Regions from separate parts of the Homo sapiens genome. Here region 1 is linked to region 2. The links come from fine-mapping of genetic effects on gene expression. Tissue or cell type: stomach. Region 2 holds a variant in brackets; the other region holds the start of a gene. All regions are shown on one strand. Distances are from middle to middle.

What was found. PIP is the estimated chance that this variant, and not a neighbour inherited with it, causes the effect.
Region 1: CAPZA3 starts here. The variant in region 2 is the best candidate, but not a certain one, in a credible set for the expression of CAPZA3 in stomach (GTEx, PIP 0.74).

The regions. Positions count from the first base shown.
Region 1 is chr12:18,734,954-18,740,337 of GRCh38, reverse strand. CAPZA3 (capping actin protein of muscle Z-line subunit alpha 3) reads right to left here and starts at 2,219. Exons shown (of 1, transcript NM_033328.3): 1 at 1,150-2,219. The coding sequence starts at 2,069. The coding sequence ends at 1,170. It overlaps PLCZ1 (phospholipase C zeta 1), which reads left to right and starts at 2,326. Exons shown (of 15, transcript NM_033123.4): 1 at 2,326-2,406; 2 at 2,829-2,977; 3 at 3,994-4,117. The coding sequence starts at 2,967.
Region 2 is chr12:18,653,514-18,658,897 of GRCh38, reverse strand. It overlaps a transcript of PIK3C2G not described here and a transcript of PLCZ1 not described here. Among named protein-coding and RNA genes, the nearest start is that of PLCZ1, 82 kb to the left of the region's middle. The variant T/C (reference allele first, on the strand shown) is at 2,908.

The DNA of each region.
Region 1 (5,384 bases), 81 kb before region 2:
AGTCCCCGAGGTGATGGTATTAGGAGGTGAGGACTTTGGGAGGTGATTGGCCATGAGAGTGGAGCCCTCATAAACGATATTAGTGCCATTAATAGAAGTTCTACAGAGCTGCTTTGCCCCTTTTACCATGTAAGGTCACAGTCAGAAAGTCCTATCTATGAGGAAACACACCTTTACTAGGCACTAAATCTGCTAGCAACTTGGTCTTGGACTTCACAGCCTCCATAACTGCGACCAATAAATTCCTGTTATTTGTGAGTTACTCAATATATGGTATTTTGTTATAGCAGCACAAGTGAACTGTGACACTATGTGTCTGGAAGATGTGAACAACTTGAGAACTTAGGTTTTTCTTAGGTACAACGGAGATAATACTAGTACCAGATTAGTGATGAAAAATGTTATGCAAAATATTTAGCACAAGCCATGTTATGTAATAAGTACTTCTAAGTGTTTACAGTGACGACTTCACAAAAGCCTGGCTGTAAAAGTTTGGGAAGTCAGGCTTCTCTGGTTGGCTTGGAAGACCATGTTAGTTATCAGACAAGCCAGGGATTTTGAGTAACCCCAATTCTTGAGGGGAAGAAAGTAGAGTGGAAGAGGAGCCAAAATTACTAATAGTCCTTCATCTGAGCTAGATTTTTGATATCTGTTGGTTTTGTGGAAAATCCAAACCTAATGTCTTTTATTGAAATTCCCCATCTCGTGGATGGTCTAGGACTGAATTGAGTTATGTAAAATATCATTTGTGGAGTGATATTCATTTGTATACCTTTTCAGTTCGAAACAGTCAAAAGTCTCTCTCTCTCTCTCTCTCTCTCTCTCACACACACACACACACACACACACACACACGTACACACCCACACACAGCCTTAACCCTGGCCACCTCTATACTATTTCTGGAATCCCAGATTCTATAAAACTATTTTAGTTTCTAACAAATGTCTTGGTCTTTATGATGGTCACCACCATGAAACACAGTTACTTTACACTTTCTTGCCTTGTTCATAAATATTCCCCAAGTAAAATTACTTGCTACACTTTTCCCATTTAAATTTGCATTGGCTAAGTGAGAGACATCTCTACAGATTGCTCAATTTTAGGAAAATAACCATTCCCAAGAAACACAAACAAGTCAAATCAAGATAGTTACCAGGAGCAATTCTTTATATTATCCAGTTGCACAACACACTTCTTGAATAAATGACATATCCTAATTTAGGATACATCACCAGATTCAAGTCAGAGAGTATCCTGTGCCAGTCAATAAGAGTGCGGGTCACTGGAAGATCCCTTCGTAGAATTTTTCTCAGGGCTTCATTGGATAACTCCTGTAATTCTTCCAAGACTGCAGCTTGAAATTTGTTCTCTTGCTCTTCCACAAGCCTTGCAAAACTTAGAGCCAGTTGAGCTTGGTTAACTATTTCCAAGCTTTCTTTCAGGTCCTTGGATATTTCAATATGAAGGTTGACACACCTGAAGAAGTGAGCTTGCACAAATATTCTTCCCGTTACTTGGGTTAGAAATGGGTTAACTTGGAAAATCCATTTAGATTTCCAAAGTCCGTTCCAGCACTCTCCTGTTTCATAGTTGTGATCTTCAATGCAAGCTATCAAGTACTCCTTACTTTTGACAGTTTTTCTCAGCATGTTGCAATTTCCTTTTGGATAGTGGTCATTCACATACAGTTTTAAGGCGCACAGAAGAACAACTCTCAGGTATTCTGCCTCATTCTGAATGATACCATGACTTTGGATGTCTTTCAGCTGATTTTGAAGCAGGTCATATTTGAAAGAAAGTTTGCTTTGATGGTCAAAAAATCGGTAGTCGCCCATTACATTGTGGTGAGACAAGAGTACTGGATTTCCATCGATGCAGAGTGGTACAGAATATTTTTGGCAGTGTTGGTGGCCTGCACACTCACCTTGGTGGTGCATAAGTTTTTCATCACGGATAAGCAGACAGAGATCATCAAAGGCATTTACAAATTCCCCTGGAGGGGCCTGTAATAACAGTCTGCGAATTACTCTTTCCTTGTCCTTCCTGCTCAGCACGCTAAGTGTCATGTTTGGTTGCAACAGAAGCAAAGCTTCTGAAATGAGGAGTGTTCAAAGGATAAGAAAACATTCCATGAGCCACCTTTCCCATCAAGGTGTTAACATTCAAGCTGAAGGTTTTTATGTCTATCCATGAAAGCAGGCAGTCTGGCAAGGTCTGAGCCTCCTGATGAGGTCATAAGAAGCTTTCCTTGTGAAGTGTGGAACCTCTGATGATATCACAATGGGAATTCAGACCAAAAGGAAAAAATGACAGTCACCTGACAGTGTGGTGCCCAGCCAACCAGCTATACCTCTTTTGAAGATTTTAAGAACTTAGCCTCCTGAACAGTCTTCTTCGAAAGTGGTGTGTCTCTGTGTGCATTATATGTTGTCAACGATCTAGAGAAGCAGCCCAAAGTTTCAAGAGTGACAGCACTTTGCAACTTCAGGAATCACAATGGTGTTGATTTATACTCAGGCTCTCAGAGTAGCTGCCCAAACCCACTGGAAGCATATTATGATGAAAGGTTTGAGGGGTTTAAACAAAGTAGTAAAAAATAAAAGGAGATACAATGGCAGTTCATGGAAAAATGCCAGACATCAGGGAAAGCTGTGTTTTCAAATATTGTGGGTTTGGAGGTGGTCAGAACGTAAGAAGCCAAACAGTTTCAAGGGCAGGGTAGTGCAGGTACCACATCTTGCATACTGTTTCTATGGTTAAGTGTGAGCTAGCTTCAAAGAACGAAGGCAAAAAAAACCACTGTGTGTTCTCTGCTTTCTCCCTAGAAAAGTGGTAACAGCTGATGAGTATCAAGAAATTATTTTCTGCAAAGGGGCAGAGTTAATTGTATTTGGAACCCATGACAGCACCTACTGGGGAAAGACTTCTAAGTGAGGAGAAACGGCTCTACAGGTCATGAAACTATGGAAATGAGATATCCATTGAGAGCTTCTTTCTGCTCCTCTTCTTCTTTCTCCTACTTATCCTCTTTACTTGATGCTGTTATTCTTTTCGAGGAGTTCTGAATTTAAGTCCTCTTCATTTAAGTTGAACTGCTTTTCCCTGTTTGTTCTGAGCTTTTCTAACTTTCCCTGCATTCTGGTATCTTTTTCTTACAAGAACATGAGCTTTGCTGGATTAAGTCATAACTATTAAATTTAAGGAGATCTCATTAATTCGTTCTAACAATCTGAAACTTAGTAGTTTTGCACAATTTTTACCTATACCTTTTATAATTTTAGTGATAATTGTCATTATCTCATTTCGATCTTAGTTTTTCAAATGGAAGTGTCCTAGTTTTTGTAGTTTATCTATGATAAGTAAGCTTTTAAAAATTTTTTTCGTTTTTCATACCAAATATACACTCACCATGGTATTTCTGATGCTTTTTGATGGTACTGTCTTGAGTGTGTGTGTAGCTGGGCATTGGACTAATGTAGTAATAATAACTTTATCAGTCATGGTTACTATTTATTGAACACTAAGTAGCAGAAACTGTGTTCGGTGGCATATTAGGAATTCATCTAATGCTTCCACTTTCCTTAAGATTCAGGGTTAATTTGCTCACCTTTCTGGAAGAGAGAACTAAAACAGAGAGGTCAGGTGAGAGGCGATCTTGAAGTCTAGCTGCCTTCCAACTTCATGCCTTCAGGCAATAGATTGTTATAATGTTTTAATGTATGTTCTAAGTAATGACTTCAATTCTCAAATTTTAACTTTAATTCTTTTTTTTGTATTTTTACTGTGCTATGCCCTTTCATACCTTTACCATAGCATAGTAACTACTTAATTTTGTTTTTTAAAAAATATTTATCATACAATTATACTATAATTTACTTTAAACATATTCTTTAAAAATAAAAATAATACAGTAAATCAAATGTTTCTTTAGGAATTTTAAATATTCAATGACTTTCTGTGAGAATTTCCTTAACTTTTTTGTGCTTCTACATGGTTTTTGTCAAAGATTCAGGATGACTTCAGAGGTGGAAAAATTAACCTAGAAAAAACTCAGAGGTTACTTGAAAAATTAGATATTCGGTGCAGTTATATTCATGTGAAACAGATTTTTAAGGTAAGATGACATCCACCCCCTGCCTATCCTATCCTAGGTGGAACTTAATCCAATGTCAGTAATTGTCATATAAAGGTTAGTCTCTTAAGAAGAAAAGCAATTAATTATACTAACTATATTTACAATCAAGATGGAGAGCATTTCAGTAGAAGGTAAAATTAGTTGTTGAGAAAATCTGAAATAATACCAGGATATCAGTTTAGAATAATTTCCTGAGCATACAGAAATGCTAACATTAAACCTAGGATTGGATGTCTAATTATATCAGACTGATAATGGTAACTGTATTAGATGTTAGTGATTTATAAAAAGAGTGGAGAATAAGCCCAAAGTTAGCAGAAGGGAGGAAATAATACAGATTAGCACAGAAATAACTAAAATAGAAAAGAAAAAAATTAGAAGAAATTGAGGAAACTAAGACTTGTTTTTTTGAAAAGTTAAATAAAATTGACAAATACTTAGAGTAAGAAAAAAGAGAGAGGAGTCAAATAAAATCAGAAATGAAAGTGGAGACATTACAACAGATCTCACAAAAATGAAAAACACATAGAGCAATCATACACCATAAAATTGGACAATCTAGAAAAAAAAGGGAAATTTCAAGAACCATATAACCCATCAAGACTGAACCAAGAAGAACTAGAAAGGTTAAACAGACCAATAACAAAAAGGAGACTGAGAGGCTGTGTGCAGTGATTTGTACCTGTAATCCCAATGCTTTGAGAGGCCAAGGTGGGAGGATCACTTGGGGCTAGGAGTTTGAGACCAGCCTGGGTAACATAGTGAGACCCTGTTTGGAGACTTAATCAGTAATCAAAAACTGCCCAACGAAGAAAAGCCCAGGACCAAATGACTTCACAGGTGAATTCTACCAAAGATTTAAAGAAGAATTAATACCAATCCTTCTGAAATGCTTCTAAAAAATAGAAGAGGGAACACTTCCAGTTTTATTTTATAAGGTCAACATCATCTGGATACCAAAGCTGGACAAAGGCACCACAAGAAAACAAAACTTTAGGCCAATATTCCTGATGAACATAGATGCAAAATTCCCCAACAAAATAATAGCAAATCAAATTTATAGCACTTTAAAAGGATCATATTCCATGACCAAATAATATGTGTCCCTGGCATGCAAGGATGGCTCAACATACAGAAATCAATCAATGTGATACACCACATTAACAGAATGGAGATAAAAATCACATGATTATCTCAAAAATATAGAAAAAGCATGTGACAAAATTTAACTCCCTTTCATGATAAC
Region 2 (5,384 bases):
TTTTTACAGGTTTCATAATGCAAATTTTTTCCATTCAAATAGAATAATTCACTTTAGAACATTTCTGAAGGTGAATTAGATTCTATTGTAGTAAATACCTAAGCTAAAGTATAGCATTCTCTCCCTTTTTACTCTCTGTGAAATAGAATATGTAAAACCTTCTAAAAGAATTTATATGCATAACTCAAGCCATCTATTCCAAATACTTAAAGTTACAGGTCGGTTATGTATATATGTAAAACTGGTACTTTAATGCTATTATTTATTAAAATATTGATTTTCTATTAAAAAATTCTCCTTTATTTTTCAAAAATAGTTTTTATCAAATATAGATCTCTTGGTTGATGGTCTTTTCTTTTAGCTCTTTGAATATTTCATATGTCTGGCCTCCATGGTCTGTGGTAACAATCAGCCATTAATCTTATTGAGGATTTCTTGTGCATAATGACTTGCTTCTCTCCTGCTGCTTTTACGATTCTTTATCTTTTGCTTTTGACAGTTTGATTATAGCGTGTCTCATTGTGAATCTTGTTATGTTTATCCTACTTAGAGTTTGTTGAGCCTCTTGGATGTAATTCATCAAGTGAATTGATGTTTTGGACCATTATTTCTTTAAATATTCTTTCTGTCCTTTTATCTTTTTATCTCTCTTATCTTCTGGGATGCCTAATATGCAAATGTTAATATACTTGGTGGTATTTCATAGGTCTCTTAGGATCTGTTGATTTTTCTTTATTCCTTTTGTTCCTCAGATTAGGAAATCTCAATGAACTTACTTTCAAGTTTGCTAATTCTTCCCTCTGTCTGCTCAAGTGTACTGCTGAACTTCTTTTGTGAATTTTTCATTTCAGTTGTTATAATTTTTTAATCCAGAATTTTTTTTTGGTTACTTCATAATATGTCTCTTTATTGAAGTTTTCTATTTGAAGTGATATTATTCTAGTGGTTCTCTTCAGTTCTTTGTATGTGGTTTCCTTAAGAGCTTTAAGCATATTTAAATAGTTAATTTAAAGTCTGTCTAGTAAGTCCAATAGATGAGCTTCCTTAGGGATAATTTCTATTACTTTCCTTTTTTTTCTGTGTATGGGCCATACTTTCTTATTATTTGCACACTTCACAATTTTTTGTTGAAGACTGAACATTTTGAATATTATAGTGTGGCAACTCTAGAAATCAGATTCACTTTCTTCCTTGGGGGTTTGTTGTTGCTGCTTATTATAGTAGTTGTTTGTTTAGTGCCTTCTCTGAACTGATTTTTTAAAGTATGTATTCATTGTTGTATCTAGATTCTCTTTTCGGTTAGCTTAGTGGTGTTCAGCTAATGATTTTACAGAGATTTCTTTAAACTACTGGAGCCGAAAACAACAACAAAAAATTAGAAATCTTTCAGCCTTTGCATATGGGCTCTATGTGAATGTTGAGGCATGCCTTCAACACTTCAGCTTGTAAGCTTACTACTCTGCTATAGTCTTCATTTGTGCTTTCATAGAGCCTGAGGGTCAGCCAGTGACAAGAGCTCTGGATCTTCTCAGGTATTTTCTGAATATGATCCCATCCCTGGGCACATATATGGTCATCTAAATCCCAGGTATTTGTGGAAACTTTTCAGAGCCCTTATTCCCCAAAACATCTCATTTCCCAGTCTTTCGCCCCCAGGTTTTTCAGTTAGTAAATTGTTTGTTCCAACTCTATTATTCCTTGTCCCCAGCAGCAGTGGCAAATACATCTGCCTATAAATATTTCAAACAAATTCTCCCTGGGTAGTCACCTCAGCACTGGTAGAGATTTGAGTTCGTTAAAATAAAGACAAACCCTTTGGGCTTGTTTTTTTGGGATCACTAGCCAAGTCAAAACAACCACAATTCTTTGTGGTCAGAATGAGATCTATTTTACTCTCTGTCATATTAGGACCCTATACAAAAAATGTGAGCTGCTGTCATTAGGGCTGCCTTAAAAAGTTGAGCTGGGAGCAGGAGATGGGGCCAAAGTAACTTTAACACCACATCTCTCTTACTGAAATTTAACTCTCTTTTCTTGATTAAGCATTCATTTTGTTGTTGCAAAATTTGATTGGTTTCAATTGTTCTAATAAAGTTGATTCTGACCGTTTCTGCCTGTATAATTGTGTTTTTGTTGTTGTTGTCGTTGTTGTTGCTGTTGTTTGAGACAGGGTCATGCTCTGTCACCCAGGCTGGAGTGCAGTGGCATGATCATAGCTCACTGCTAACTTGAACTCCTGCCTCAAGCAATCCTTCCACCTGAGCTTCCCAAGTAGCTGGGACACCAGGTGCATGTAACCATGCCTGGCTATTTTATTTTATTTTACTTTTTTCAGGACAGAGTCTCGCTCTGTCGCCCAGGCTGGAGTCCAGTGGTGTGATCTTGTCTCACTGCAACCTCCTTCTCCTGGGTTCAAGCAATTCTCTGCCTCAGCCTTCCAAGTAGCTGGGATTACAGGCGCCCGCCACCATGCCCAGCTAATTTTTGTATTTTTAGTAGAGACCATCTTGGCCAGGCTGGTCTTGAACTACTGAGCTCGTGATCCACCCGCCTCAGCCTCCTAAAGTGCTGGGATTACAGGCGTGACCCACTGCGCCCAGCCACCTGGCTAATATTTTTTAATGCTTTTTTGGTATAGACAGGGTCTTGCTATGTTGCCCAGGTTGGTCTCAAACTCCTGAGCTCAAATGATGCTTCCGTCTCAACTTCACAAAGTGCTGGGATTACAGGTGTGAGCCACTGTGCCCAGCATATTTGCTGTTTTTGTGGAAGAATGGAACTTTAGACTTCCCTACTTCACCATTTTTGCTGGTGTCACTCTCCTTTACTAGTATTAACAACTTATATTAGAATTTGTCACAATTGATGAACCAATATTGATATATTGTTATTAGCTAAAGTCCACTT[T/C]AATTAAAATTTACTTACTTTTTACCTAATTCAAATTTACTTAGTTTTTCCGTTTCAGGATCCCATCCAGGGTACCACATTACATAGAGTAGTCATGTCTCCTGAAGCTCCTCTTGGCTGTGACAGTTTCTCAGGCATTCTTTGCTTTTTATGATGTTGACAGTTTCAGGAGTACTAGTCAAGTATTTGGTAGAATGTTGTCAATTGGGATTTGTCAGTTCTGATTTTTTTTTTTTTTTTCATGATAAGGTTGGGGCTGTGAGTTTTTGGGAGGAAAACCTCAGAGGTAAAGTGCCACTTTCATCACATCTTGTCAAGGGTACATACTGCCAACACGACTTCCACTGTTGATATTGACCTTCACTACCTGCCTGAGGCAGTATTTGTCAGGGTTTCTCTACTATAAAGTTAATCCCCCAATCCTCTTTTCCATATTATATTCTTCAGGATGACGTCACTATGCATAGCTCATATGTAAGGAATGGGTAGCTATGTTCTACCTTTTATCAGGTGCAACATCTCCATAAATAATTAGGAATTCTGCGTGGATTTTGTTTCTTTCTCCCTACTTATTTATTTATTCATTTATAGCAGTGTGGATTCGTGGATAACTATTTTATACTTCAGGCTATAATTTAATGTTACTTACCCAACTTGTCCCAGCTTTGGCCATTGGGAACTCTTTCAGTTGGCTCCTGTGTCTTTGGGAATATTTTTTTCCTTCAGCTGGAGGACCACTGGAAGCAGGTTCTTTACCTGAAGCTGCAGTTGATGTTTCTGATACATTAGAGTCTAGTGATGATTAATATTTTCACCGTATGATCTCCAAAACCCTTTCTCTTCTTAGCTTTTAAATTTCACAAGTCTTTAACAGTATTTTCCTGTTATGGTCTTTTTCTCAACAAGAAACATCAAAAGCCTCTGGTATTTTTTTTTATTATTGTTTCTGTATACTTTTAAGACTGTTTCGGCTGGGTTTATAACTTTTTATTCAGCTTCTTATATGGGTCTGTTTACTTCTTTATTTCACATAGGGATAACATTGTTTCCCAGAACTAAGTGTCTTTTTTCTTTTTCCTTTCCCTTCACTCTCTGACCAAAACATTTGTTTTTCCAACTTTCCACTCTCAAAATTTTATCTTGAGAATGTCCCACATTAAGAGAGATGAAGTCGGTGAGTTCGATGTTTGTCACTTATCCCTTGTTCAAACAAGTCTTGATTATCTTGATCCTTATGAGTAGGAAAGTCCCATGTAAAAGATAATCTTATCAGACCAAGAGCTGATCCAGACCAAGTACTCAACTGGAATCATCTTGTCTGATTTCCCTTTAATAAGTCCTCTCTTTGCTTTACTTTTACCTGGAATAACAGTTCCACAAATTTTCCAAATATTTTTCCTCAGGGAACACCCGTGGCAATAATTTTGCTCATTTGCAGTTGACACAGATGCGTTTTCATCCTTTATACTGATTTTCCTGGGATTTCGGTCTGAAATCGGACCACATTTTCTTAACCACTTGAAAGATCTATTCCAGTTTTGAAGGAAAAGGTGATTTGATTGTTCTTACAATAATGCTGATACTTTAAGAGGAGTTTTAAAAAGCAAGTGTGATTCTTAGTCTTTCCAGGAAATCATTATATCTGCTCTCCAAGGCTTTTCCTTTTCTTATCTGATAGATTTTTTTTTTTTTTTTTAGGTACTAGTGTTTCTTTTGGAAATGGCAATAACTAAAATGTATTGCTCTTTTCTATTACCTTCTTCAAGAGAAGTTGGACCTGAGTATATTGACTTTTTAACTTTATAGTTATCTCTTCCAGCTACTAGCATTTCATTTCCCCTTCATATCTGCCCAGTCTGTGTTTTGAGATCCCAATATTTCTTTTAAGGCAGTATCTTTCTCATTACTACTCAGTTTGACACATTCTATTTTATTTTCCTTCTTCTGCTACCATTGCTCTGATAGTAAGAAACTATCAGAAAATGAGGCTCTTTTTTAAGCTACTCAAGTTATTTCTTGATTCTTGGGGTAAATCGGAATCATGGAGCCAGAAGGCTGACAGGTATAGTCCTTTAAATTGCTTTCTGAATTTTGGGGCATGCAATAATCTCAGTCACTTATTTCTGAACCTCAGCCTAGGAAGAGGGCATTTTCTCTTTATACAAAGAGTTCCTATATTTTATTTTAAATGTTAATAAAATCCACTTCCCTCCTATAATTGCAGCTGTAGTTTGAATCTCCAAACTCTAATAATGAGTGTCTTTCCTTTAATTATTAAACTCAGAGTCTACTTAACACCATGTGGTTGAGGTGACTTAAGTATATAAACATACCACTTGAATTCGTTTGGTTTTGTCTCCTCCAGTGCTCTGTCACCCTAAAACCACTTCAAAATAGCATGCACACATACAAAGGAACACAATTTGGTGAAGTTTAGGTAACAGTCAGGTATACCTGTGTCTGGAGTTAAGAATTTT